4 linked regions of the Homo sapiens genome follow. The protein of the gene in region 1 interacts with the protein of each later gene in a biochemical or structural test. Each region holds a gene or a part of one and is shown in the gene's direction. Other genes may lie near its edges.

Region 1 (7,752 bases):
TGTCATTGTTGTTGCCCAGAGCCATGGGTTTTTTAACCCCAAATTATCCACATGGTGTGTATTATGAATTCTTTGAACTCTTAAGGTTTTTGTGAGAAAAGGACTGTGAATTCAAAACAATAAGGCACTTGTGGGTGCACTACATAGATTCTGACAGTGTTGTGATTCTGTATAGGATTTTTAAAAATGACAACATTCACAAAATTTATTACTTTTTAAAAAATAACATGCCTATTAACTGGTTGCACTGATATAAAAGAAATATATTTGTGTTTTGTTTGTACTAAAATGCAAAAGCAAGAGTGCAATTTTTAAAATCTAGAAGTTAGGGGTTTTGTTGGAGAAAAATGGACTGATCTTTAAACTATTCAGTCTTACTGGGATTTTTATGCATAGAAACTCACATATAAACATGAAATAAACAGTGCCAGTATTCATAGGAAAGTGAGAAACTGTAATATTTGGCCATTATTCTATTCAACAGGTTTTAGAGGCATGCCACCATTTTTTCCTTATATTTTTGCTTAATTTTTTTAAATTGTCATTTAATTCTTAAACTGTCATTTATTTGAGATGGAAATAAGATCTAAAGTTAGTTGCCTTTGCCTGTAAAACATGTGATTTGCAAATTATTATTTTTCTTTTTTTTAACAAATGGAAGTAAATTTGTTTCACGTAAATCTTAATTTTCAACCTTTCTGGATACCTTAATTGTAACTGTCAGTTTGCACTGGTCGGTATATGGAAACACATTGCTCTACCCTGCTACTTAGTTGATTTTAAAGTGAATTTACAGTGATGAGAAATTTGTGAAAAATATATTGTATTTCTTTTGATGTTTCAAAAGGTTGCCTATGAAAAACTGATTTGTTAAAACATGCTACATGTCCAAAAATAAAGACCAGAATGACATTTTGATAATTTTCTGAGTTTGTCTTATTTTATGAACAGACTATTATTTACTAGTGGAACAGGCTATCCCTGCCCCCGACACATTCTTTTTCAGTGCAATTTGGATGTGTTGCTTGGTCTATTAGTAAAACAAGAAATACCCTTTGGGCGATGAATTACTCTGTCATTTTTTGTTTCTAGAATATCTTCTCTCTCTCACTCATGGAATAGCGAGTTCAATTGTGCCTTTGTTTCCTTACCCAAATAAGCCCTTGTTTTTCATTGCCCTAGCATTATCACGTGAGACAAGGAAAATATCTACAAACTATACTGTGTATGTGAGCTACATAATTATGCTTTCTACTTTGCCCAACACAAATTTGTAAACTTTCTTAAAACATTATGAGACTTGTGATTTTCTTTCTTTCTTTCTTTCTTTTTTTTTTAGCTCATCAGCTATTAGGGTATTTTCATTTATTTATTTATATATTTTTGAGACGGAGTTTCGCTCTTGTTGCCCAGGCTGGAGTGCAGTGGCACGATCTTGGCTCACTGCAACCTCCGCCTCCCGGGTTCAAATGATTCTCCCGCCTCAACCTCCTGAGTAGCTGGGATTACGGGCGCCCACCACCACACTGGCTAACTTTAGTATTTTTTAGTAGAGATGGGGTTTCACCATTTTGGCCGGGCTGATCTCGAACTCCTGATCTCATGATCTGCTGTTAGTGTATTTTATGTGTGGCCCAAGACAAATCTTCCAGCGTGGCCCAGGGAAGCCAAAAGATTGGACATCCCTGATTTAGTTTCTCCCACTCCTTTTGTGGGAAGCAGTGGAAAGCAGTCACCTATGTTTATGTTTTGATTTATCTTATGCCAAAACTTATTTTTGGCAAAGTCAGGGTAGTATAGGTCTGTGTTTACTTTTGTGAAGTAATTTTAAAGCCTCTTTATCCATCTCTGCATTCCCAAATGGATGTGGCTAGATGTTGAATTGTATCATCCTGTGGCTGGATTTTTTAATATAAAATTATGAAAAAGTTCTATGTAGAATTTGATTTGTAGCCTTTAGTACTTGGGGGAACTGATTTTTATCCTTTATCATTTCTATTTGGGTATGGCTCAGTGGTTCTCAACTAGGGCTTGGGGGGACAGTTTTGTTTCCCAGGGGACATCTGGCAATGTCTGGTTGTTACTACTAGGTGGGGTGGGGCATTGGCATCAAGTGAGTAGAGGTCAGGGTTGCTGCTAAGCATTCCGCGATGCTCTGGGCCATCCCCCACAACACATGTATCTGTCCCAAAATGTCAATAGTGCTGAGGCTGAGAAACCTTGGTGCTGTTGATGATTTCATCTGTGAAAGATAGCATGAATCAACTGTCCTTATGTATCAGTAGCCTTTTATGCCCATCACAAATGTAATGTTCAAATATAGTAAAGATGGTCTTGCCGGGCATGGTGGCTCACGCCTGTAATCCCAGCACTTTGGGAGGCCGAGGTGGGCGGATCACGAGGTCAGGATATCGAGACCATCCCGGCTAACACGGTGAAACCCCGTGTCTACTAAAAATACAAAAAATTAGCTGGGCGTGGTGGCGAGCACCTGTAGTCCCAGCTACTTGGGAGGCTGAGGCAGGAGAATGGCGTGAACCCGGGAGGCGGAGCTTGCAGTGAGCCGAGATTGCGCCACTGCACTCCAGCCTAGGAGTCAGAGTGAGACTCCGTCTCAAAAAAAAAAAAAAAAAAAAAAGATGGCCTCTCAGAAATAGTATAGACACCCATTTGAACCTTAATAAAGTTGAGCTTTTCATGGCCAACTTTTTTGGCGTGTAAAACATAGGACAGCCATGTTTTAAATGAAAAGACCAAAACAAGATTGAATAATGTTATAGAACAATGTACATCACTGGTCTGACATGACTAAATGATTGCCTACTTAGAGTATAATTGAAGAAAGATAAATGAAAAGGACTAAAAGAGTTGTATTCATGTATTTTCATACACTGGCATTCTACCAGGTAATATAAGCTCAGTAAAGTAAATCTTATGTTAATGTCTGTTCCTTGAGAGTTAAGACGACTCAAGGTCTTTATAGTGCTCTGATACACTGAAATCGATGAGCTGTATGTTGTGACTCAAGATTGTATTCTTACATGTCAGCTTTTTAATGTAGTGAAACAGTTCTTAACCAGGCAGTCATTCTAATTTGCCTGCATGCTAGGAGAAATTCCCATATTTTTGCATAAATCATTTGTTAAGATTTATTAGGCCACTTGTATAACTATATTTTGGCTTGTCTTTTCAATTGATTTTTAAAATTTACAAAATCGAACATAGCCAAGAATGAAGGCAGAGACCTAGAGTGATGAGGAAAACTAAAAATAAACCCATTTCACTTGTGTTGGCCAGCTGATAAGAGAAAATTGCCCAACTAGAGAAGGTTGATTCATGAAATATTTGGGTACTTCATCCAGAACCTAGGGCATCTCTTTTGTCCATTTCACTATGACTCTTCCATGATCAAGGATAGCCCACATTTTTCAGAAATGGGCACCACCTTTACCAATGCTTGAAATGCAAGTGAATGATCAGGAGGGAACCTTGCCATGGGACCTTGTCCCAGATGGAACTACCATGGCGAGTAGTCTGATGCTTCTAGTGTGACACTTACTTGGAGAGGCATCCAAGATAGGCCTTTTATTAAATACAGGCTTGGCCGGGTGCAGTGGCTCACACCTGTAATCCTAGCACTTTGGGAGGCCAAAGTGGGTGGATCACCTGAGGTCAGGGGTTCGAGACCAGCCTGGCCAACATGGCGAAACCTCGTCTCTACTAAAAATACGAAAATTATCCAGGCGTGGTGACGCATGCCTGTAATCCCAGCTTCTTGGGAGGCTGAGGCAGGAGAATCGCTTGAACCCAGGAGGCAGAGGTTGCAGTGAGCCGCGATCGCACCATTGCACTCCAGCCTGGGCAACAGAGTAAGACTCCATCTTAAAACTAAATACATACATACGTGCATACATGCATACATACATACATACAGCTTTAGGGTAAATTGTCTTTTTTTTTTTTTTTTTTGAGACAGAATCTTGCTCTTGTCACCCAGGCTGGAGTGCAGTGGCGCGATCTCGGCTCACTGCAACCTCCGCCTCCCAGGTTCAAGCAATTCTCCTGCCTCAGCCTCCTGAGTAGCTGGGATTACAGGCACCTGCCACCACGCCCAGCTAATTTTTGTACTTTTAGTAGAGACGGGGGTTTCGCCATGTTGGCCAGGCTGGTCGCAAACTCCTGACCTCAGGTGATCCGCCTGCTTCAGCCTCCCAAAGTGCTGGGATTACAGGAGTCAACCACCGCGCCCGGCCAGGTAAATGGTCTTTTTTAACTGGTCATATTTTAGATTTGGATTTAATCCTCTATAAACTTCAGAATTAAGAGAAAATGAAATGCTCCAGGGAGTAGTATTTCCCACTTAGAACATACAGCATATTTGCACTTCTTTTGTATGTCAAATAACTTGCTTTGTTTCTGTGGAAGCCAAGAAGTTTCTATCTTTCCAACCCTGCTTTCTAACATAAAATAGGAAAAATAGGGGTTTAGGAATATAAAATGTTTGGATATGAATCTTATCTGTTAGATAGTACTGAGTTATGTAGTTCTAGAACTATTGGATGTTTCTGGTTAGAAGGAAGTTTCTTTAGTTTATTTAACACTGCTGTGGAGTCAGCACATGCAGTCGCCAAATCAGTTAGATTAGAACCTACAGAGATCTCGGTAACAGGAGCACTGAGTGCTAGAAGGTTTAAAATAGATGTCATATGATACCAATTATAACTCAGTGAAATTTTACAGTCCTAGGACCCTATACAGAGCATAAGCCAAAATGGAAGATGGTCCTGTTTTCTATGGCTTTAAAAACATTTTTATTACAATGTTTGCTACGTTTTTTTTCTTTAAGCTTTTAATTAAAGTTTTTTTGGCTCTCCTAACCCATTTCTATATCGTCAAAGGAAATAGAAAAGAAGCGGCTAGGATAGCAGAAGAGATCTATGGTGGAATTTCAGGTAAAAGTACATGAATTTGTTCCTAATATTTAAAGAAAATCCCTCCTAGATAATTCATATGACTAGTATTTCTGGAAGGCAGATTATATTTATACTTTGATTTTAAGTGGGTAGTTTGAAAAATTGTCACTTAAAGTAGCAAATGCTGTTGGCTGCATCAATTTGTGGAGGATTTTCAGCTTTATTTTTTGCAAGTTCGTAGATCTTGTAGCAGTTGTTATTTAAGAAGTAAATAGGTAGTGGCTTACTAAGAGTATTTTGAGAAACTTCATTTCTACTAGCCAAAGTAATTACTTGTATATAATTATTTTCTTTAATATTTTAAAGCAAACTTTAACAATGAAGGGCATTCTAACCAGACTAAATTCTCTCAGGAAATAGAATGACTAATAAATTATAATTAAAGCAGCAAACGTGGCAAGCTATGTGTATTTTTTTTGCTGTCATTTGCAACTGGAATTGATTAACCACTTGTCACTGTCAGGAAAAGCTCTTCACTAAACCCATTTTATATGGTAGCATGCAAAGCACTCCAAACAAAGTTTATTCTAACATGAAATGCCAAGATTTGGGCAAAACATTTTAAATTCTCATGCTTTGTAGAGAATAGTGTCCATTTCTTTCAAGAAATGATTTACTTTAATTGTGGTGAGATGCTACAAAAGTAAATGAGTCAGATATCCCTGTCACTCCTGGGATTGTCACTTAATAGAGGAGTATTTATTCATAAACAGAGTTCAGAATTTCCCCGTGTATTTTTAGTGTTTGCAGGGGTTCCAGGATTACATCATTCTTTATCTAGTATCCATTTCAATTTGCATCCAGGATTCTCTTTCAAAATAGTCTTATGTGATTCCAATACACTAGACAACTCAGAAGACACTAGACAACAGCAGTCTTATCTAAAGAAATAAGACCTCCAAGGACGAAGCATCAGAATGCTTCAATTAACTGGGGAAAATGAGAAGAATTGTGAAGTTTCAGAACGTATCAGAAGGTCCGGACCATGGAAAGAGATTTCTTTTGGGGATTATATTTGTCACACATTTCAGGGAGGTATGTTACTTTGACTAGTTACAAAAAAAAAAAAAAAAAGTAATGCTTCTGATAAGTTTCAAGTTAAGCATGATCTGAAAAGTTATCTTCTAATTTAATTTGTCAATTTGGGCAAGGGCTTTCTAAAATTTTCAATAATAGTTTTGGTGTTCTCATAGATAAATCATTCTTCTGGTCTAAATTAGATGAAGTCCAACAAAGTCAATATTGGCAAGAACATGTTACAAATGTTTTCTCCTGTTGCACCTGCGCATTATTTCTGTCTTTGTGGTCTTTAATTAAGTGCACTCTTTTTTTTTTTTTTTTTTTTTGAGATGGAGTCTCGCTCTGTAGCCTAGGCTGGAGTGCAGTGGCACCATCTCGGCTCACTGCAACCTCCGCCTCCCAGGTCCCGGTTGAAGCAATTCTCCTGTCTTAGCCTCCTGAGTAGCTGGGATTACAGGCACACGCCACCATGCCCAGCTAATTTTTTTGTATTTTTAGTAGAGACAGGGTTTCACCATGTTGGCCAGGCTGGTCTTGAACTCCTGACCTCATGATCCGCCCGCCTCGGCCTCGCAAAGTGCTGGGATTACAGGCGTGAGCCACCGCGCCCGGCCTCAAGTGCACTCTTAAAAAAGGTATAAAACCTCCTTATAGTCAAAACCCATGTAAGCATGGTTTGAATTTAATCTGGAGCTGGAATACAAATCTCTTAAATACAGTTCGTTCATTCTGTAGTGCAAATATCTTTACTTGTTCAATCTCTTAAAATAGGTTAATTTGCAAGTAGCATAGTATTCTAAGGTCAAAAACATTTTTCAATTATTGTTAAAGAGGCAGGGAATGGTGCATGTTAATTTCCCAGTTTTATTTCTTTCATATATATATGTATATGTGTGTGTGTGTGTGTATACATATACACGAATCCCCCCACCCCCAAATTTACCAAGATTTGGTAAATAAGACTTTCTGTTTTTTTGTTTGTTTTGAGATGGATTCTTGCTCTGTCACCCAGGCTGGAGTTCAGTGGCACGATCTTAGCTCAGTGCAACCTCCTCCTCTGGGGTTCAAGCAATTCTCGTGCCTCAGCCTCCTGAGTAGCTGGGATTATAGGCGCACGCCACCACGCCCGGCTAATTTTTGTATTTTTAGTAGAGATGGGGTTTCGCTATGTTGGCCAGGCTGGTCTCGAACTCCTGACCTCAAGTGATCTGCCCACCTTGGCCTCCCAAAGTGCTGGGATTATAGGTGTGAGCACCTGTGCCTGGCCGCTAAATAAGTCTTTCTATAAGAATGTAGGCAGTAACATGCCTGGACCAGTATTTTTCACATGGTTCTGTGTTTTTCTTTTGATACCACTGTTAACAGTCAGATACTATATTATTACAAATCTTCCCCCGCCCCACAAAATACTTAAAAAATAACAACTCTTTATTCAAAACCCAGTCCTTTAAATATTAATGCAACTAGGCCAATACACCTAAACAATAAATCCTCCTCAACCCCTCAGTCTCTCTAATTCCTAAATTATCCCATAACAATATATTTAGGTGTATTAAAAATCAAGAACAAAATTTTGTGGAAGTGTTAAACTCAAACCAGAAATCAAACTCAAACCAGAAATCACCTTTGCTTTTGGTCACTTTTGCACTGGTCAGACAAATGTTTGTTGGGAAAATATATGACATTTAATCAGTAAATTAGCTAATTGACTTACAAAAGTCCCAGCCCAAGGTTAAGTTTCTTGAGTCTGCTAGCATAT
Region 2 (7,024 bases), on another chromosome or scaffold:
TGTTCAGATGGTGTCATTCTTCACTTTGGCCAGCCTATACAGCAATAGAAGAGGCCTATGAGCTATTCCCTCACTGACACCCTGCTATCCCCTTTATAATGTAGATCTCAAAAACAACCAAACCGATTCCAGCTACTTTATTACTTGACTTATAGTAAGTGGCAGAGTAACCTTATGTTTTGAATATATGTGTAATAATAGTATCTTTTATGTTTTTTCAGAGAAGACTATTCAAGGACCTCAAGTAATTAAAACATATAGGCCTTAAACCAAAAAAAAAAAAAAACCCTGTCTTTAAATCTGTTTTGAATGTTTAGCATAATTATACTCTTGTCATTTCCCTAGGGGATGGCATTCCTACTGTATTTGTGGCAGTGGCAGGCAGAAGTAATGGTTTGGGACCAGTGATGTCTGGGAACACTGCATATCCAGTTATCAGCTGTCCTCCCCTCACACCAGACTGGGGAGTTCAGGATGTGTGGTCTTCTCTTCGACTACCCAGTGGTAAGATACATTGAATTTTTAAAAACTGTTCATTACAAGCATTTAACAGATGCACAACAGTAGACAGAATAGCATAATAAAATCTCATGTACCCATGACCTAGCTTCAGCAATTAACATCTTGTTGTGTCTACAGCCATCTCCTGCTGGATTATTTTAAAGCAGATCTTAGACGTTATAGTAATTTATACTTAAGTATATGTTTAAGTAATACAGGCTCTAGTTTTTAAATCATAATCATGATATTGTTATAGAACAAAAGGAGCCCACTATCTGATGCATTAGAAACCAGTACTATCTAAGCCACCAGGTTTTTGAGAAAGAAAGGCTTCCTCTTTCAAGTTGACCAACAAGGAGACATGAGTCCAGCTCAAATCTGTGCTGGCTTTAAGGCAGCAATTTTATTAGAAAAGGTTTAGGGGATAGATTCTGGGATTAGTAGGTGATTGGTGGAAGGAAAGGGGAGGTCTAGAAAGTCCTTGGGCATGTGCAGTTATCTCTTCATGTTATTTCATGGATCACGTGTGTAAATTTGGGGGAGTTAGAATGAATTGTGGTGGAAATTGGGCCTGTGACATCAGTAAGCTGGTTCTGTGCAGACTCTAGTTGGCCATATTGTTTAATCTACCATTCTGCAAACTCAGGAATTTCTGTTAGTTGTTGGTATCTTTTAACTCTTGGGGACACAGTTTCAATACCATATTCACACCTAAGAAAGACTAGTGGTAGTTTCTTAAGGTATAATTTTTAGTTGGGGTCCAAGTTTTCTAATTGTCTCATCTGTTTGTTCAGATCCACCACAGTCCTTATATTGCATTTAGTTGATAATCTCTTGATTTTTTAAATATATAACAATTCATCCTCCCTTTTTCCCTTTCATTTTTTCAATAGAATTTTCTATATTTTGGATTTGGCTTCTTACATTTCTAGGTGGTGGTAAACATGCTCTTCCATTCCCTATATTTTCTATAAACTGATGGTGAGATCTGTAATAAAATCAAGTTTAGATATTTTTTTCCCAAGAATTCATGGTATTGATTTTTTTTTTTAAAGTAAATGTGATCATGTTACTTCTGTAGAGAGAATACAATTTTATTCTTAAATATTGGGGATAAGGCTGGGTGCAGTGGCTCATGCCTGTCATCCCAGCACTTTGGGAGGCTGAAGTGGGCAGATCTCTGGAGGTCAGGAGTTCAAGACCTGCCTGGCCAATATGGTGAAACCCCATCTCTACTAAAAATACAAAAATTACCTAGGCATGGTGGTGAGCATCTGTAATCCCAGCTACTCAGAGGCTGAGGTAGGAGAATCGCTTGAACCTGGGAGGCAGAGGTGAGTCAAGATTGTACCAATGGATTCCAAACTGGGCAACAGAGTGAGACTCGGTCTCAAAATAAAAAATTGGGGATAAAAGATAATAACATAAGGAAGTCCCCTTTTGGCTGATGGAACTGGATCACGTAACAGTGTTGTGGTTCGTTCATCATAGTCCAAGATATGATCTGATATTCTGCAGTTTATGAGGGTCAATATTGTTTCAGTAGGAGATTTGCTTTATTACTAAAATCCCTAACTTTTCTCATATCTGTATATATCCAGTCTTGATATGTGTCAAGTATATTAAGTCTTTGAGCCCTCCAACCTGGTCCAGTGGACTGGCTTCTCTCTAGGCATCCTGTACTGCTGTTGTCTTAGGATCCCCCTTTACCATAATTTTGGAGACTCATTTTGCCTTTCTCTAGGCTTGGATCTCCCATGTTTTCCCCTTACTTGGTTTATTTTTATTTTGTTGGAGTACATTCTTGAACTTGGGGGCAAAAGAATACAAAAGGTAAATTTTGATACCTTGTGTATCTAAAATGTGTATATTGAAGCCCTATACTTGATAGTTTAGAAATAGAATCCTATGCTGAAAATCATTTTGCTTTGGAATTTTGGGAGCATTATTACTCCACTGTCTCCTAGCATCCACAGTTGAGGACTCCATTGCTTTTCCACCAGTCTGATTCTAGGTTTCTTATGAATTTTGTTTCTCTCTGGAATCTTTCAGGATCTTTTGTCTGTTTTCATTGTTCTTAAATTTTACACAGATGTGATGTGCTGAGTCTGTTTTCATTATGGACTTTCGGTGAGCTCTTTTAATCTGAAATTCTGATTTCTTAGTCCCCATTTTCCTTGAATTATTTAATTTTCATACCCCTCCATATTCTCTCTTCTCATTTTTGAATTTGAATAAATTTGGGCTTCCCTTGATTTCTATTCTACTTGTTTGTCTTGTTGGTATACTTTCTGGAATATTTCCTAAATTTTACATTCCAACCCTTCTATTGAGTTTTTCTTTTTTTTCTTGAGACGGAGTCGGGCTCTCTTGCCCAGGCTGGAGTGCAATGGCGCAATCTCAGCTTACTGCAGCCTCCGCCTCCCAGGTTCAAGCGGTTCTCGTGCCTCAACCTCCTGAGTACCTGGGATTATAGGTATGCACCACCACGCCTGGCTAATTTTTGTATTTTTAGTGGAGATGTGGTTTCACCATGTTGGCCAGGCTGGTCTCGAACTCTTGACCTCAGGTGATCTGCCTGCCCTGGCCTCCCAAAGTGCTGAGGTTATGGGCGTCAGCCACTGTGCCCGGCCTTCATTTTGGATACAGGTGTTTTTTGTTTGTTTTGACACAGGGTCTTGCTCTGTTGCCCAGGTGGGAGCACAGTGGCATGATCATATCTCACTGGACCCTTGAACTCCCCGGGCTCATGTGATCCGCCCACCTCAAACTCCCAAGTAGCTATGACTACAGGCCCACACCATCACACCTGGTTAATTTTTTTACTTTTTGTAGAGATGGGCACTCCGTATGTTGTCCAGGCTTGTCCTGAACTCCTGGACTCAAGCAATCTTCCCACCTCAGCCTCCCAAAGTGTTGGGATTGGGTAGGAACCACTGCCTCTGGGGTTTTTTTTTTTTTTTTTACACAATGTTTTTATATTTCTTTTGGTTTTTGTTTTCTGGGTTTTTGTTGTTGTTGTTGTTTGTGTTTGTATGTTTTTAAATTTCCAAAAGCTCTTTTTTGTTCTCTGGAGATGATTATAGTCTGTTGCATATAGTTACTTTCTTCAGCTGTCTGGTAATCCTTGGCTGTTTGCGCTTTTAAGAGTGGAATACTATAAAAAACAATTGGAAACTTCAAGTGGGTGGTCCGTGTCAAAATTGGGCTTCACTGTGGGGTGTATCTGGTAGGGATTGTTCTTCAAACAACCCCTCACATTAGTGTCTAGGTATTTTCTTAAGTGTTGACCAGAATTACTCAGAGAACAAAAGTTGTCTGTGCCTGGCGTCCCCTAGTTCAAAGACGCCAAGACTGAAGTCTGTTTTACCTTCAGAAAAATTAAAGGCCTGGCTTGGTGGCTCATGCCTATAATCCCAACACTTTGGGAGGCAGAGATTGGTGGATTGCCTGAGCTCAGCCTAGGCAACCTGGCGAAACCCCATCTCTACCATAAATACAAAAATTAGCTAGGCATGGTGGCACACGCCTGTGGTCCCAGCTACTTGGGAAGCCAAGGTGGGATGATCACTGGAGCCTGGGAAGTTGAGGCAGCAGTGAGCCGTGATTGCACCACTGCACTCCGGATGACAGAGCGAGACCGTGTCTCAGAAAAAAATAATGTTTAAAAAGAAAAAAATTGCTACAGTGCTTTAAAGAGGCAGTTACTCAGGTAGATGGAGTGGGGAAGGAGATTTGAGGACCTAGCTTCTTCTTAGACTTCGAGTCAGTCATCTTCTTCTTAGTCCCTATTCCCTTCCAAAGGTATCTGGTGCCACTAATTTAGTCAGTCACCCTTTGGGGGAGTTCTGTAATGTCAGTCATGTTGCTTCTCATCTTTCCCTGCTTTCAGTTTAGAATTAAGTTTTTTTTTTTTTTTTTTTTTAAATGGAGTTTCGCTCCTGTTGCCCAGGCTAGAATGCAATGGCGCAACCTCCGCCTCCCAGGTTCAAGCGATTCTCCTGCCTCAGCCTCCCAAGTAGCTGAAATCACAGGCATGCACCACCATGCCAGCTAATTTTGATTAAGTTTTCTTGGTCTGCTAACTTAGCTACCACTGTGTTTGCCTTTCAGTTGCCAAAATGTTACTGCTGTTATCTGGCCTTGTGTGTTCATGCCTATTTCCTTTACTGTTTTTATAGGCTCTGAGAATTAAATTTTGTGCCTAAGCTATCTTTAACAAGATGTGATTATACAAATGTCTCAAGCTAAAAATCAGCGGCTACAAATAAAGCTGTAACCAAATTTATGCCAGAGGAATTGTATAGATACCCATGGAGCTTACAAAAGGGGAGCATGATAAGCAAAAAATTGGCAGTTTTTATAGTAGTGTTGTTTCAGGAGTGACAAATAATCTGGAAGACTTGTACATAATGATCACTAGAATTGGGGATAATCTTTTGAGGAGTAGTTTTACAGTAACCTGTGTAAAATCCTGAAGACCGCCCATATTTCTCATCTCTGATGTCATGCTCACTAGATAACTTTTTTTTTTTTTTCTGCAATTTAAGCTATTCTTTTACCAGAAAGGGAGTCCTGGGCAGGAGGCACAGGTTATTTCAAATATTAGAGTGGAGCACTCTACCTAGCGTGCTAACAATAGTGGTTGACATTCTTGGAGCACATACTGTGTACCAGGCAATGCTCTAAGCACTTTATCTATGTTATTAACTCATTGAAGTGTCACATCAGGTAGCTACTAGTTAAAATTCCCTTCTCACAGAAGAGGAGAATAAATTAACGTGAAGTAACTTGACCAATACCACATATTAAGGGGTGGAGCTCCATAAAATAACGTATTAATACAAATTAGTAAATTGGCCTTGTGATTTGTATTTGACTCTGTTCTTGTGGATAATGGGAGTCAAAGAGCCTGATGAATTCCAAGAATATCGGGAAAATCGAGCTTTTGGAACTATAGCAAACACTAGACATAATAGTACCCCTGATTCTAGCAAACACTAGACATAATAGTACCACCTCAAGACACTCTGCCTGAGCAGACATGTGGCCCCTAGGATGTTACTTTTTTATTCTGCTGTCTTGGATCTTATTAATATTTATTTATAACTTGACATTTCCTAAAATTATTCTACGGATTTGACTTTTACTGCTCAAAAATATTAAAATAGTTCAAATGCAGATAGAAAGATTAGCTAGAAAACTGTCAAAACAACATAGCTCAAGTTTGTCTAAGAACAGGTACTTTTGTACTCTTACCTTGACCCTTATTTTGCTTCAGTTGTTCTTCGCCAGGGATTGAAAGGGATAGTGTATGTGAACAGAAGTTTCAAAAAGATAAGTTTCTTTGTAAGTGAGTTCTATAAGAAGGGTGATAGATGATATATATAAAATATCTCTTCATGGCAGGTAATACTGACTGCTTTTCCTCTTGTAATCACTTTACCACTCCGGTATTAAAGACAGTTGTACAGATTCTACTTTAGATTAGAATAATGCAGTAGCTTTTTATTTTCTGTGGCAGGACTGCTCTGAGTATAAAATTTTTTGTAAGGTTGTATTTTCATTACTAATTGAGCTCAATTTTCTGTCTTTTCCTTGCTGAACCAATAGGTCTTGGCTGTTCAACCGTACTTTCTCCAGAAGGATCAGCTCAATTTGCTGCTCAGATATTTGGGTTAAGCAACCATTTGGTATGGAGCAAACTGCGAGCAAGCATTTTGAACACATGGATTTCCTTGAAGCAGGCTGACAAGAAAATCAGAGAATGTAATTTATAAGAAAGAATGCCATTGAATTTTTTAGGGGAAAAACTACAAATTTCTAATTTAGCTGAAGGAAAATCAAGCAAGATGAAAAGGTAATTTTAAATTAGAGAACACAAATAAAATGTATTAGTGAATAAATGCTTCTCTAGATCCATATTAATAAACATGAGCATCTAACCCCTCCTTTCTTAGGCTAGACACCAAGATATTTCAGCCAGCCTTTATCATTCCTCTTACTTTATCCTTTTTCCTTAAGTATTGGTGGTCACTACTATTGAGTTTCTTCCTTAACACTGATTAAATGATCTTAACTCCCTCAGCTAAAACTGGCATTACTGACTCCCAGCTATATTTCTCCAGACTTGCATTTTTTTTTTTTTTTTTGAGACAGGGTCTCACTGTCGCCCAGGCTGGAGTGCAGTGGCGTGATCTCAGTTCACTGCTGCTTTCCCTCCTGGGCTCAAGCAGTTCTCCCACCTCAGCCTCTCGACTAACAGGGACTATAATCTTGCAGCACCATGCCGAGCTAATTTTATTTTTTGTAGAGATGAGCTCTCACTATGTCACCCAGGTTCGTCTCAAACTCCTGAACCCTAGTAATTCTCCTATCTCAGCCTCCCAAAGTGCTAGGGTTACAGACATGAGCCACTGTGCCTGTCTAGACTTGTACTTTCAACTGTCCATTTCTCCCTGTCTGTCCCATGGGCACTCATGAAAAAACAGAATGCTCCCAACTTTATTCATCTTCCAAGCCT
Region 3 (7,452 bases), on another chromosome or scaffold:
TCAGAAACTCTGAAGGTGCAGCTCAGCACTCTGCTTTTTAGCAAACAATCCAGGTGATTCTGATGCACAGAAGAGTTTGAAACTCATTGCACTAAAATTAGTTTATAAATATATCACACATCTATAATTTTGGAGTATCACTGCCGAAGGCTCTCAGGTAACTCCCTTCCTTGACATTATCTTCTACCAAAGACAGCCAACTTGCCCAAGATTACATTCCTAAGGAGTGAGGAGAGACAGCACACAGAAAATGACTGATCCAGAGTGGCTTTCTTGCCTCAATGTGGGCTATCTTTGAAGGGCCACCCCAACTTCAGAGCTCTTATGTTTGGACCAGTAAACTCATGGACAAGAATGAAAAGAAAATTTTATTTTATTCTTCCTTTTTGGGGGGAAGCCTTTATGTGCTTCCTTTCTCCACAATCTGCAGAGCGTTTTGCACTTCAGGGCTGTGACCTTAGTTTCCAGGATTTGGCCCCTCCAGAGATTAGGATGGAGTGACCCTGTTGAGGAGGGCATGGTGACTGGGGCTTGAAGTACAGAGAGACCTAGGCCAGTCCTGGAGGTGGACATCCTGGCTGGTGCCAAGACTGCTGGGAAATGGAGTGTCCTCTGGGCAGCAGAAGAATGTGCCCCACCCTTGCATGGTAGAACTTTAGAAGGGACAGCTGGGAAGAAACCAATGTTGTGATGTCAGGAAAATCTGCTGAGTCTTCACTACCAGAAACATCACAGCAGATGGGGTGCATTGTTCCCTTGAGCACATTCTACCAGCATGGTAACTTTTCAAGAATTTTACAGGAGATATGTTGATAGGGCATTTGCTAAACGTATAATTAAAAAAAATTGTAGTGCAATGAGTTTCAAACTCTGCTGTGCACCAGAATCACCTGGAATGTTTGCTAAAAAGCAGATAGCTGGGCTCCACCTTCAGAGTTTCTGAATCAACAGGTCCAGGGTGGAGCTGACATGTGTATTTATAACAACTTACCAGAATTGCTGATACTGCTGGTCCCCAGAACCACTGTCTTAGGGAGAACAGGATAAAAGTAAGACAAAGAAACCATGGAGAACATAGTCCAAAGGTGTGTATTTTCATTCACTGCATGCTTGCTTGCTCAGCACCTGATCAGTACATCTGCTGCCTTCTCCCTTAGTTTGTGTCCCCAGTGTCAGAATTTGGCTCTTCCTCTTTGTTGGCAGTGTCTGGCACTCTGTGGACTAAGGTCATAAATGGAGCTATGAGCCATCACACAGACCATGCTGGCCTGGTAGGGGAGCAGAGCTGATGTGTACCTTGAGGGATGTGCAGTTTGTATAACATTCAAGGTGACCAGCAGAGGGTGAGAGTGGCCTGGGGCTCAGCAGGTGCATCCCTCACCCAGCTGGGTATCCAGAGTGTCTGCACCTGTCCAGGAAGTTCTTTGCACAAAGGGTCTTCTGCCCCTCAAGCCACGCACTGTCTGAGCAGAGGGAAGGGTTGTGTCCACCAAGAGAGGGGACATCTTCTCATTTGCACAAGGGCCAAGTGTAAGCTTGCAGAGTCCTAAGCTGTGAGAGCAAAGCAGGAACTCGGCTGAAGAGGCTCTTTTTACAGCCACCTAAAGACTCTGGGGAAAGTGCATCCGTGAGACTGTGGAGAAGGATGGGGCTTCCCCAAAAGGAGTGACACTGGATTGATTTACTTTACAAAATGGAGGACCGTTATACTTCTTCCACCTGAGGATTGAATAGCCCACTACCATTTGCTGCTGGTGTCTGCATGACCTGAGTGGCATAGCTCATCTGGATTCCTGCTCTAAGCAGCATCAGCATTACCAGGGACCCCACCCCGGACCTACAGAATCAGAAAACCAGGCCATGGCCCAGCTGGAAGTGTTTTAACAAGCCCCCTCCTCCAAGGCGATTCTGATATATTGAAGCATTTGAGGTACTCTGGCTTGGAGCTTCTCCACTTCTAACAAACTTGGGAATCTCCTGGAGATTTTATTAAAGTCAGAATCTGAGATTGAAGTTCTGGAGTGGGGATTGAAAGTCTGTATTCTTAATAAGTTGCTTGGTAATGTGGATGCTGCAGATCCGCGAATTCACGTTGAGTAACAAAGGTTTATATTAGATTAATGGTTCTTGACCTTAACCTCTGTTTTACTCTTGGCTGTTATTAAAAAACAAACAAACATAGACTGGGTAGCCTATAAAAAACCAAAATTTATAGCTTACAGTTCTGGAGGCTGGAAAGTCCAAGATCAAGGCAGATTTGGTGTCTAATGAGAGTCTGCTTCCTGGTTCATAGACGATGCCTTAGCTCTCTGGGCCCTCTTTTATAAGGGCACTAATCCCATTCATGAGAGCTCTGTGCAGAGGTCCCACCTCTTCAAGTTGGTAACTAGAATGTCAGCATATGAATTTTTGGGGGACACGAACAGCAACTTCACATAAACACGTTGAAATATATGGATGTTTGCATCCCATCCACGGAGGTCCTGTGCCAGTTGTGGCATGAGCTGGACTGGAAATTGGACCTTGTTTTAAAATGTATTTATAGCTCCCCTGCTGATTCTAATGTGCAGGCAGATGTCAGGAGCCCCTAGCCTAGAAGCAAATGGGTCAGGCTCTTAGAAGGATGTAAGTTAAGGGGAAGTTAAAAGAGGAATTTGGGAGCAATCTGCTCCTTCTGGCTGATGAAAGTCTAGGGATTGTGGGGAGTGCCAAAGGGGCCAGAGACATCATATTAAGTGAGTTGCTCCTTGTTTAAATGAGGCCTTTGGGCCTCTGCTTCACATTCTCAGAACAAATAATGATGGCATGTGGCAAAAGGCAGGCTTCTTCTGCATTGTGGGATATTCAGCATAGAACTGGCTCTCTTTATCAGCTCCTGATTTGCTCTCCCTGCTTCCATACTAGCACTGGATTTTTGCTTATTTAATCTTTTTACCCTCCTTTGTTTAGTTCTTAAATTCCATTTTGTCATTTAACCTGATAACCTACATTTTGGTTGTCATGGAAAACAACATCCTGACTTATAAAACTGGAAGGTTGTTTCAGGACCCAGAAACTGCATCAGGCAGTGCTCAGAATCCACTGTCATCATATTTGGAGCCTCCTCTGGGATGGGTTTCTGAGTGGCCATATATTCCTTTGCAATGAAGAGGAGACTGTGGAGGACAGGGTGACCACTCTGCTTTTAGACATCATTAGTGTAGGGGCAGGTTTGTTGAAGTAGCCTTAAATGACTTTAGTAAAAAGAGTGTATTTTTATTTTTATATTCCAATGGCTGTAGGATCAAGGCCAGAATTAGGATGAACTGGGGAATAAAATAAGTTTTCTTGACTATAAGTTGTAAAATGCGTAGTTTTTAAGTATGATTTTTAAAAAGCATATTTCCTGTGAATAGCAGGGCAGAATTTTACTATGGAAATGAACTTCAAAGGTTAACATGTTTTAATTATTTAGAAAGTGAAGACGGGATTAAAACAGATAAATAGGATTCTACAACAAAAATCAAATGTAAAGAACTACAGAATATTAATTTTGCTCAAGTCTTTTAGCATATTTGGTATTACAAAAGAATGAGTAATATAACCAAGAGAAGAAATCTTCCTTCAGTCTGTAGTTTAAACTTAACATGGATCAATGTTATGCTCAAGCACTTTTAAAAATGCCTGCACAGAATTGTTAGCCATTAATATTTTTTCTTGCTGATTCACCTGTTTTTTAATCAACGCGTCTTTGACAAAATTGTTTATCAATGTCAGGAAATAAACGTGGTCATTTGCTTGAAATGCTAATGTGAAACCACTCAGTGAAAAAGCAATTCTAATCCAAGCTTGCCAATGGCGGTGTTGTCATAGGATCCTATTAAATTAGAATATATTAATCTACACTGTGTGGTTGGCTATGGTATGGGGCAGGGCATTTCGTCTGCCTTTAAATGAGTCGGTTTTTAAAAGTTAAAATCTGGAAATGGAAAAAAAAAGTCTATATGGTTAGTAGCGATTATAGTTCGCAATGCGAACAAAAGAATCTGGTTCCCTTTCAATGGAATTATTTTAATTCATTAAATTATCAGAAAATTCCAGTCCTCGCCATCTATTCCAAGAGCATGCAGTAGGTGGCACCTAAAAGCTCTTTGGAGGCGAACAGGCGCCATTTAAGCAGGAGCAGCAGCCTCTGCAGCAGTTGGCACATCTGAGAAGGCAGAGATTGAAGAGAGTAGGAGGAGCGTGCAGCGGCGGTGACAGTGCCAGGCCGGAGCGGCTCAGGCCAGCGCAGGTGCAGGGGCTGCGAGCGGGTGGAGCGCGAGGGCGCTGGGCGCAGGGAGCACGGCCGGTGGGCGGTGCAGGGCGCACGGCGGGCGAGCAGCTGACAGCATCGTCACGGCGGCGGGAGGGAGTGCGCTGCGCCTGCCTCCGGGAGGAGCCGCATCCACACACCCTGCGCTGCCCTGTCCTGCGCGAGTGGAGCTCTGAAGAAGCTCTGAGCGGAGTTGTGTTCTTCCCCAGGTAACCGATTTCCCCCTTCTGCCGTGGCTTCGCTGCGTCCGCATTGGGGCACGGGCGGCTTTGGCATGATTGTTTGCCAGCCCCTGGAAAGGGATTACCGCTCTCAGGGAGGGCGAGTCAGCGTGTACTGGAGTTGGTAAGAGGGGAAGAAATCTGCATTTCTGTATCCTTGTTAGGGAGGGTGAGCATCATGCTGTCCTTGTCTAAAACATGTTCTTTTTTAAAAATCTGTATCTTACGTATTATTAGGGATTCCTTCCAAAACAGGATTTACCGTTTTGGAAAATTCTACTGTGCAGGTGTTTCTGTTAATGTGGAAGTTTAATGGATTTAGGAAAAGAGTAAGAAGATGTGGTCTAAAGTGAGAAAAAAGCCAAGCACGCTAGGGACTGCCGTTTGGTTCGGCATGCTTTCATCCTCGACTCCTTCACTTCATGCGCTTGGCCGAGACCTGTCTAAATCTTTTGTTTGTCTTCTTAAAGAATGTGTTTCATGATATCTACATGTGCTCCTTTCCGCTTCCTTGTTGTAAGAGCAGAAGATGGGCAAGGGGCTGCATCCAGTCCTTAGTTGTAAGACTGTGGTTTCCCATCAGATGACAATGACTGCTGACAGCTCCCAGGCTCGCCTGAAAAGCAGTGCTGGCTTCTGGCGTTGTGGGAACCTGCCTCTCTCCTTCTCTCTTGAAAAATGCTGTTTTTCCTCTTTAAAACTCCAATTCACATTCTATGTGGGTTTGGGAGACTTTTAAACTAGAAGCTCTGTGAATCATCTGTTACATCCATTGAATGCTGGAATACAACATTGTGGTGGAATTCAGTTTCTTCCTACTGTGCAGAGACACAGCTTGCCTTCCCTAGGAATTTATTTTACATATTTGCCCTCGTTATCTTTTAAATGGATCCCTTCAGATGTGAGAAGCTAGTCCAGCATATCAGAACTTTTCTGCTTCAAACTAAAAATTTTCAAAAATATTATTTTTGAGGAAGATTTTCCAGGTAACGCTAAAAGTCTGGAGCATTTTACATTTCAAATCAGTCACAATGTGCTCCATTTCCAGTGACATTTGGATTTGAGGAGGTGGAGGGGGAGGGAGAGAAAAGGGGAGGATAAAATTAGAATAAATTTAACAAATTTGTAGGGGAATCATACTTTTTTTTCTTCTTGGTTGTTGTCTGAAATTGAAAATTGTCCACAATTTTATCTATCTCTGGAAATGCAGGAGGCTTTGTGGGCTGGGGACAGGAAGACACATAGTTCATTTTATAGAAATAAAAGATACAGTGGCAAGGAAACATTTTCATCCCATTTAACATATGGCATTTAATTTGGTAATAGTCCCGGGCAAGCACAGGGAAAGGAAGGAGAAAGGAGGGGGTATTGCTGTCTATACCAAGGCACAGAACTGCTGCTCACACTTCAGTGATCCCTGCAGATGGGAAGTATGTGTTCATGGTTATTGTAGAAACCTCCAGAATCTTTCTTTGTTACAGCTTTAATAGAATTGTTCCTAAGAGGCGACTCAGAAAACATACAGATTGAATGCCAAGTTGTGGAAGTCACTTTTCAGCTTGTGTCTAACAACCCAGCATTCTCAGCAAAGCAGTTTCCTCATGAGAAGAGTGGAGGAGACCTTTTTTTTAAAAAAATTATTTATTGTATGTTGTTCGTATCCTATACACCACACATGACTTTTACTGTATTGGAAATGTATTATTTCAGTGGTAAATACTGCATATCTTACTGAAAAATTAAAACCTTTTAAAAAACAACTGGGGTGCTTTTGTCAAAAAGAGAGTGTATCTGTGATAATAAAAAGTATTGTTCATTCTTCTTCTAATTTGGAGACCAGAGTTGATATGTTGAAAATTAACCTATTTATTTATGCAAAATCATCATTTCCCTGTGACAAATGCCATACATTTTTCCACCAGAGAATTTCTTTGTGAGAGGACCATTCAGTTGTCTGGGGTGGAGTGGTTGCCTGCCAGCTGTTTTAAGTAAAAAAAGTGTTTGGTGTTGATCTGCAACTTTCAATTCAGATAACAACCATCCCCAATTCTCACTCATATGGTGGATTGCCTCTATCTATCATCAGTCTATCTACCTGGTATAAGTATTGACAGTGGACAGATGTCTTTTTAAGAGCAGAACTGATTTGTAGGACACTGATTTTGGTTATGATTTTTCCAGGAAAACAGCTGCTCAATCAAAAGGGAATACGATGGTTCTTATGTTGTCAAAATTGCTGATGGCTTTTTAAGAGTTAAATTTACTAATTCATACATATTTAAACATGAACTGAAAGTTATTTAACTGGTGTCAAATAATGCTTTAGTTTTCATTATATGACATGGCTTGCAAGCCTCTCCTCACTGACGGGGAAGGACTCTATGAAGTAATAAAAACAAATGCTCCCTCATTCTCTCCTTCTTTGCTCTCAGCCACTGGCAAATTTAGGAAAGAGATTCCTTATAGCTGTCTCCTAAATGCAGTGAAGTGTTTTCTTATAAATCTGTACTGTACAATAGAATTGAAATGTGTGAGTCATATGCACAGTTTAAAATGTCCTAATGGTCGTAATGGAAAAGTAAAGAGAAACAGCTGAAATTAATTTTAATGATATAGTTAAGCCAGCATATAAAAAATGACCATTTAGATATAATCCATACAAAATACTGGTAAGATATTTTACCTTTTTAAATGCCTGCTGACGACTTACAAGACATCTCAATTTGGATTAGCTGTGCTTCCAGTGCTCAATAGCCCACACAGCTGATGGCTACTGTATTGTCCAGCACAGCTATAGATCATTACTCAATTGACGGTAATTTAAAAGCTAACATGTTCGGCGCCATCACCAACTAAGCGCTATCAAAAATAAATATACAAATGATCTCAGATTGCTGTGAGTTATGTGTCCTTCTCTTTCCTGCCATTAACTGTGGT
Region 4 (7,024 bases), on another chromosome or scaffold:
CATGCAGATCTGGGCCCTAAGGCCAGCCTAGGCCCAGTTGGTGATGGGATCTTTGCCATTCATATCAAGTCAATCTGAGGGCCTGGGCCCAGAGGCCAGATGGTTAAAGGTTCAGATTAGGTCCCTTCTTTGTGGTAGAGGGTAATGGGTATTTAATAAATTAATCCAAAGTGCTGTAATCCCAGTACTTTGGGAGGCTGAGGCGGGTGGATCACTTGAGATCAGGAGTTGAGACCAGCCTGGCCAACATGGTAAAACCCCGACTCTACTAAAAATACAAAAATTAGCCGGGTGTGGTGGCATGTGCCTGTAATCCCAGCTACCTGGGAGTCTGAGGCAGGAGAATCACTTGAACCTGGGAGGCGGAGGTTGCACCTGAGCTGAGATCACACCACTGCACTCCAGCCTGGGCAATAGAGTGAGACTGTCTCAAAAACAAACAAACAAACAAACAAAAAAACACTACCACCAACAAAAACACAATAGATGGGGAAACTGAGGCTGGTGCAGGAAGGGTTGGGCTAGGGTATCAACCTAAGGTGAGATGTGGTCCTGGGTCTACTCAGATGGGGAGGTTGGCAGGGTGGGGAGCTTGAAAGGGTCTTGCAGGCAGAGCGTGGGTGACTGACTCCTCAGGTAGGCCTGACCTGCACTCTGCTGCAGACCCTCGGCAGCGCAGCCCACTCTGGTGGCTGGGGCCTTCTTCCTATCTGGCGCCTAAGGATTCTCGGAATGCCTGCTGGGTAAGGGGGCTGTGGGCACAGTGGGTCAAGGCGAGGCTCGGTGCAGCTCACAGCTCAGCTCACAGTGAGGTGAGGTTCCACTGTTGCTCTGGCTTTGCGGGGCGTGGAGGTACTGGGGTCTCCAGGAGCACAAAGCAGGAGACTGCCTTTTCGAGGGGAAGGGAAAGGGGGGAAAAGCAAACAAGGGCTGGAGCTGCTTTCCTAGGGAAATGCCATTTGCATAGACACCCAAGGCAGCTGGAAGTTCTGGACACAGTTCTTCTAATGCCAGCTTAACACGCACACTGCTGGCCGTCTATACAATGTAAAACATCTCATCTGTGAAACCTTATTTTTTCTTTTTGAGTCAGAATCTAGCTCTGCCTCCCAGGTTCAAGCTGGGATTACAGGCGTATGTCACCACGCCTGGCTAATTTTGTATTTTTATTAGAGGCGGGGTTTTACCATGTTGGCCAGGCTGGTCTCAAACTCCTGACCTCAGGTGATCCGCCTGTCTCAGCCTCCCAAAGTGCTGGGATTACAGGCGTGAGCCACCGCACCCGGCCCATCCATCTCCCTTGAATGCTGAAAGCAAGTCGTGAGCACACACTTGTGCCTAGGCCTGTGGGAGGGCGGCGCTGTGGGTCCTGCCTGCCGTCAGTTTTCTCTCTCCTGGGGGTCAGGGAGACTTGGAGCTCTGTCCCTTCTTGGCTTAGTCATGAACCTCTCTAAGCCTCAGTGTCCTGTGTGAACAAACAGCTCAGTGAGATGGTGGGAGGGCGGAGTGTCCTGTCAGCAGGCATGAGGAATTAAAAATTAAGAACACCCAGGGCATTATGGTAAGAAAATAATGAGTTGAAGCATAAAGGTAATGGTTAGTGCCAACTTCCTCCCAGCGTGCCAGGCCCTGTTCAAAGTACATGAAGGAGTTCCTTATTTCGTCTTCCCAATAGCCCAGGGCGGGGCTCTCAGACCATGAAACCCATTTCACAGATGAAGAAATTGACACACTGCTGCTAACTGCCAGAGCCGGGCTTTGAACTAGGCCATTAGATTTCCGTGCCACAGTCATCGTCATTATCGTCATCTACATCTAAGGCTGTTTGGTACCCTGTAGGGTAAATGTGGGGTACATGATGGTGAATCAGGTCGCAGAACCCTTCTCTGCCATCATGATGAAACATGTACTGGCATGGGATTCGCAATGATCATAGTTAGGAAGGCCTTTGGTGGCAAAGAAGAGGAAACTCAGTGAATGGTGATGAGGACACATTTGGGTTCATTTTTCTTACACACAGTTGGAGGAGACAGCTCAGTGACACCCTCAGGCCTGGCCGCTCTCTGCCTCCCCACTCTGCTCTTCTTGGTCAGCCACTGCAGCTCCATCTTTGAAGGAGCTGCCCTGGCTGTGTCTACTCCCTGGCATCCAACCCCTGCCTCCAGCCTCTGAGCCCTCATTGACCAGAACTGGGTTACATGGTTGTCACCAGCTGCAAGGGATGCTGGGAAGCTGAGGGAGAGGAGGGCCATGGTTGGCTTAGATGAATGAGGATGCAGGGCCACCCCGAAGAAAATTGGGGTTCTATCAGCAAGGAGCCAGGTGGAATGGATATCGGAGAGGTAAATAGCATCTGCCAGTAAAGAAGGCTGTAAGACACTGTATGGGGTGATCCCATTTGTGAAGAAGGATGTGTGATGCGCACAAGTGTTTAGGAAAAACACTAGAAGAATTAGCGATGGTCTCTCTGGGAATGGGGATTGTGATACGTTTTTCTCATGCTGCCTCTCTGCCTTTCTTCTCAAGAGAAACAGCAGACACCAAAGAACAGGTGTAGCCTTCTGTTAAGTGGTACAGAGGAATCGCCCTGCAGCCTGGCCTCTGTCCCCTGTGCTGACAGCAGGTGCCTGGGTTTTCTGCTTTGACAGGTTCTTGAGGGCTGGTGTCCGAGGAGAACTTCTAATATTTATTTATACTCTGATTTTGTTTCACAAAGAAGAAAAAGGCTGGGCGTGGTGGCTCATGTCTGTCGTCCCAGCACTTTGGGAGGCCGAGGTGGGGTGGATCACTTTGAGGTCAGGAGTTCAAGACCAGCCTGGCCAACATGATGAAACCCCCGTCTTTACTAAAAATACAAAATAATTAGCCAGGCATAGCTCATGCCTGTAGTCCCAGCTACTCGGGAGGCTGAGGCAGGAGAATTGCTTGAACCCAGGAGGCAGAGGTTGCAGTGAGCCAAGATTGTGCCACTGCCCTCCAGCCTCCAGCAAGACTCAGTATCCAAAAACAAAGAAAGAAAGAAAGGGCCCTTATGAATCATCTTCAAGTTCCTCCCTTCCAAGAACAGAGATGCTAGGCGACTTGCCCAGAGGCACACAGCCAGCATGTAGCAGGATTCATGCCTGTGGGAGCTGGGGTTGGGGGATATTGACGGCTTTAGCGGATCAAAAGAGCTGGTGAGTAGGGCTATACAATCTGGGGGTCATCCTGTGAGAGAGCCCCCAGACTGCTCAGTTCTTAGGGGTCCAGTCATATGCTGTCTTTTTGCCCCAGAGGAGAAATGTCTGAAGTAAGACCCCTCTCCAGAGACATCTTGATGGAGACCCTCCTGTATGAGCAGCTCCTGGAACCCCCGACCATGGAGGTTCTTGGCATGACTGACTCTGAAGAGGACCTGGACCCTATGGAGGACTTCGATTCTTTGGAATGCATGGAGGGCAGGTAGGTCCCCATGGCCTGCCCTACCCCCTGCCTGATAGTGACTTCAGGGGTGGGCTGGATGAGCAGACATTCTATGAGCGGGGGAGCGCCTGCAGATGCCTCCCAGGCAGGGCCTCCGAGAGGAAGATTTCCCGGATGTGGGCATGGAGGCTTCTGCCCTGGGAGCGGCTTCACTTTGCTGCCCCACCCTCCCCTGATACCAGCTCACAGACCCCTGGACAGCCAGCATGTTCACAGTCTCAAGATGGACCTGGGGCCCCTGGCTGTCAAAATGGCACAGTGTTTGGGCCTCAGGGAGCTAGACAGGCCCTTAGCGACCTGCTGAGGACATCAGGGCCTCTTGAAGGAGGTGACTCTGTTGCCAGAAAGGGGACCCGATCCAGATCCCAAGAGAGGGTTCTTAGATCTCAAGCAAGAAAGAATTTGGGCCACACGCAGTGGCTCGCGCCTGTAATCCCAGCACTTAGGGAGGCTGAGGCAGGCGGATCACTTGAGGTCAGGAGCTCGAGACCAGCCTGGCCAACATGGCAAAACCCTGTCTCTACTAAAAATACAAAAAGTAGCTGGGCCTGGTGGCACATGTCTGTAGTCCCAGCTAGTCGGGAGGCTGAGGCAGGAGAATCTCTTGAACCCAGGAGGCAGAGGTTGCAGTGACCCAAGGTTGCAAAAATGCACTCCAGCCTGGGCAACAGAGCGAGACTCCATCTCAAAAAAAGAAAACCTACTCTATAGGCAGAGCAGCGGCATGGGCTGCTCAACTGAATATACTTATAGTTATTTCCTGATTACATGCTAAACAAGGGGTGGATTATTCATGAGTTTCCGGGTAAGGGGTGGGCAGTTCCCGGAACCGAGAATTCCTCCTCCTTTTAGACAATATAGGGCAACTTCCTGACGTTGCCGTGGCATTTGTAAACTGTCGTGGCACTGGTGAGTGACTCCAACATGCTAATATAGTTGGTGCACAATGAATAGTGAGGATGACTGGAGGTCACTTTTGTGCCCATCTTGGCTTTGGTGGGCTTTGGCTGGCGTCTTTGCCGAATCCTGTTTTATCAGCAGGGTCTTTGTAACCTGTATCTTATGCTGATGTCCTATCTCATCCTGTGACTTAGAATTCCTAGCCTCCTGGGAATGCAACCCAGTAGGTCTCAGCCTTTTGTTACCCAGCCCCTAATCAAGATGGAGTCGCTCTGGTTCAACTGCCTCTGACGGCTCTCATTTTAGAAAACCAGAACCGGGCCGGGCGCCGTGGCTCATGCCTGTAATCCCAGCACTTTGGGAGGCTGAGGTGGGCGGATCACCTGAGGTTGGGAGTTCGAGACTAGCCTGGCCAACATGGTGAAACCCAACCTCTACTAAAAATACAAATGTTACCCAGGTATGGGGCCGGGGGTGGGGGGATGGGCGCTGGTAGTCCCAGCTACTCAGGAGGCTGAGGCAGGAAAATCACTTGAACCCGGGACGTGGAGGTTGCAGTGAGCCCTGAGATTGCACCACTGCACTCCAGCCTGGGTAACAGAGTAAGACTCCGTTTCACAAAAAAAGAGAAAGAGAAAAGAAAGAAAGAAAAAAGAAAGAAAACCAGAACCTATGGAAGAGCCTGAGGAGGCCATGCAGTTCCTGGTCCCGGCTTCAAAGAATCACTGAGGCATGAAGAAGGGATCTTCCTTGGACTGACAAGGACCCTGGAGGCAGCAGGATTTGCCTGGGGTTTCAGGGGCCAAGGTCCAGTAGGACCTGACCCTTGCACTCTGCCAACTGCTCCCAGCTATGTCCAGCACACGGCAGCATACCCAGATGTCCAGGCACACCCGGCCATCCCAGCGGCAGGAAGGACCTGCACTTTTTTTTTTTTTTTTTGAGACAGAGTCTCTGTCACCCAGGCTGGAGTGCAGTGGCATGATCTTGGCTCACTGCAACCTCCACCTCCCGGGTTCAAGTGATTTTCCTGCCTCAGCCTCCTGAGTAGCTGGGAGTGCAGGCGTGCACCAGCATGCCCGGCTTTTTTTTTTTTTTTGAGACGGAGTCTCGCTGTGTCGCCCAGGCTGGAGTACAGTGGCATGATCTCTGCTCACCACAAGCTCCACCTCCCTGGTTTACGCCATTCTCCTGCCTCAGCCTCCTGAGTAGCTGGGACTACAGGCGCCTGCCACCACACCTGGCTAATTTTTTGTATTTTCAGTAGAGACAGGGTTTCATCATGTTAGCCAGGATGGTCTCGATCTCCTGACCTCGTGATCTGCCTGCCTCGGCCTCCCAAAAAGTGCTGGGATTACAGGCGTGAGCCACCACACCCGGCCAGGACTGGCACTTTCATTCTTCCCCTGGTACAGATGAGGAACGTGAAGGCCCAGGAGCAGCTGACCTCAGTAGTTTCTACCCTGAGCCTGGAAGAGAATGGTCAGGCCTGACCTGGGCTGTTGCTTTCTGCTGGGGAATCCTGTCTCTGATGTGGCACCTCCCACAGGCCAGGGACCAGCTCCATGTTCCACAGGATTCTTTTCTGCTCAGGATTTTTTTTTTCAGCCTCAGGATTTTTAGTCATTAAGGATTTTAGAACTGGAGGCACCTGTCCATTAATGGACAAGGTTGGAGGACATGAAGCCTGGGGCAGTATTTTCCTGAGGTTTCCCAGGGTAACAGAAGGTAGGACCACAGCCCCCAACCCTGATTGCCAGCCCACACCTGTACCCCTCCCACCCGCATCCCCTCCAAGTAGGGAGTGTAGGCCCAGGGCATTGGCAGGTCAGGTGGGTGGGGCCAGGGCCCAGGGCCGGCCTCAGCTCAGGGCCCCTAGGAGTCCCACTTCCCTGGGAGTTCCCCCGGTGTAGTCACTGGGATGGAATGCACACAGGTCCCTGGTAGAGGCCCAGACCAGCAAGCTGGGAGGGTGGGGAGTGTCTTAGTCTTTGTGTGGGAGTGAATGCGGGTGGGGTGTAGGATCAAGGATGTGGTTTAGTGGGGGGCCTACTAGGGGCTTCTTAGTCCCCCCATTTGGAGAGGGGTGGTGCCAGCAGGGCTGGTTTCAGGATTGGGACCAGGACACAGGTCTTAGAGCCCCCTCACCTCCCACAAAGGAAGGTAAGCTGCAACCCCTGTGGGAAGGGGGCTCAAGGGGGCTCAGCCATCCGGGGGACTCAGCACCACCAGACCTGTCCATTCCCCTTGGTCAGCCTCAGCCATCCGGGGGCTCAGCACCCCCAGACCTGCCTGTTCCCCTTGTCCACCATTTCCACCAAAGCCCACAGGTGGGCCTGCCCCAGGATTCTTTTTGAAATAGCTTGCACCTCTGGGGCCACCCACGGATGGGACCTCATGGGTATCTCTGAATCCAAGTGGGAGCCGGAGGAGGGATACAGGGAGGCCCACTCACTGCCTGCCCCAAATCTGACACCATCTCTTATCCTCTGGGCCACTCCCAGCTGCACACAATCCGTTGGCTGGGTGGGTCCAGGTGCATGTGGCCTCCACGGCACAGCCACACCCGACTCCTGTGTGTGCTCCCTGCAGTGACGCATTGGCCCTGCGGCTGGCCTGCATCGGGGACGAGATGGACGTGAGCCTCAGGGCCCCGCGCCTG

The links.
Region 2: the proteins of ASB11 (region 1) and PAICS form a complex in vitro, tested with the Homo sapiens proteins (one study listed by BioGRID).
Region 3: the proteins of ASB11 (region 1) and DIRAS2 form a complex in vitro, tested with the Homo sapiens proteins (one study listed by BioGRID).
Region 4: the proteins of ASB11 (region 1) and BIK form a complex in vitro, tested with the Homo sapiens proteins (one study listed by BioGRID).

Annotation. Positions count from the first base shown.
Region 1 is NC_000023.11:15,312,625-15,320,376, reverse strand, and holds the start of ASB11 (ankyrin repeat and SOCS box protein 11), read left to right. Parts: upstream 1-4,736; 5' UTR 4,737-4,771; coding exon 4,772-4,952; intron 4,953-5,817; exon of another isoform or gene 5,818-5,890; coding exon of another isoform or gene 5,891-6,008; intron 6,009-7,752. UniProt on the Homo sapiens protein: Substrate-recognition component of a cullin-5-RING E3 ubiquitin-protein ligase complex (ECS complex, also named CRL5 complex), which mediates the ubiquitination and subsequent proteasomal degradation of target proteins, such as BIK, DIRAS2 and RPN1.
Region 2 is NC_000004.12:56,453,258-56,460,281, forward strand, and holds part of PAICS (bifunctional phosphoribosylaminoimidazole carboxylase/phosphoribosylaminoimidazole succinocarboxamide synthetase), read left to right. Parts: intron 1-345; coding exon 346-504; intron 505-6,114; coding exon 6,115-6,281; 3' UTR 6,282-7,024. UniProt on the Homo sapiens protein: Bifunctional phosphoribosylaminoimidazole carboxylase and phosphoribosylaminoimidazole succinocarboxamide synthetase catalyzing two reactions of the de novo purine biosynthetic pathway.
Region 3 is NC_000009.12:90,639,803-90,647,254, reverse strand, and holds the start of DIRAS2 (GTP-binding protein Di-Ras2), read left to right. Parts: upstream 1-4,430; 5' UTR 4,431-4,503; intron 4,504-7,452.
Region 4 is NC_000022.11:43,120,743-43,127,766, forward strand, and holds part of BIK (bcl-2-interacting killer), read left to right. Parts: intron 1-3,273; 5' UTR 3,274-3,280; coding exon 3,281-3,441; intron 3,442-6,954; coding exon 6,955-7,024.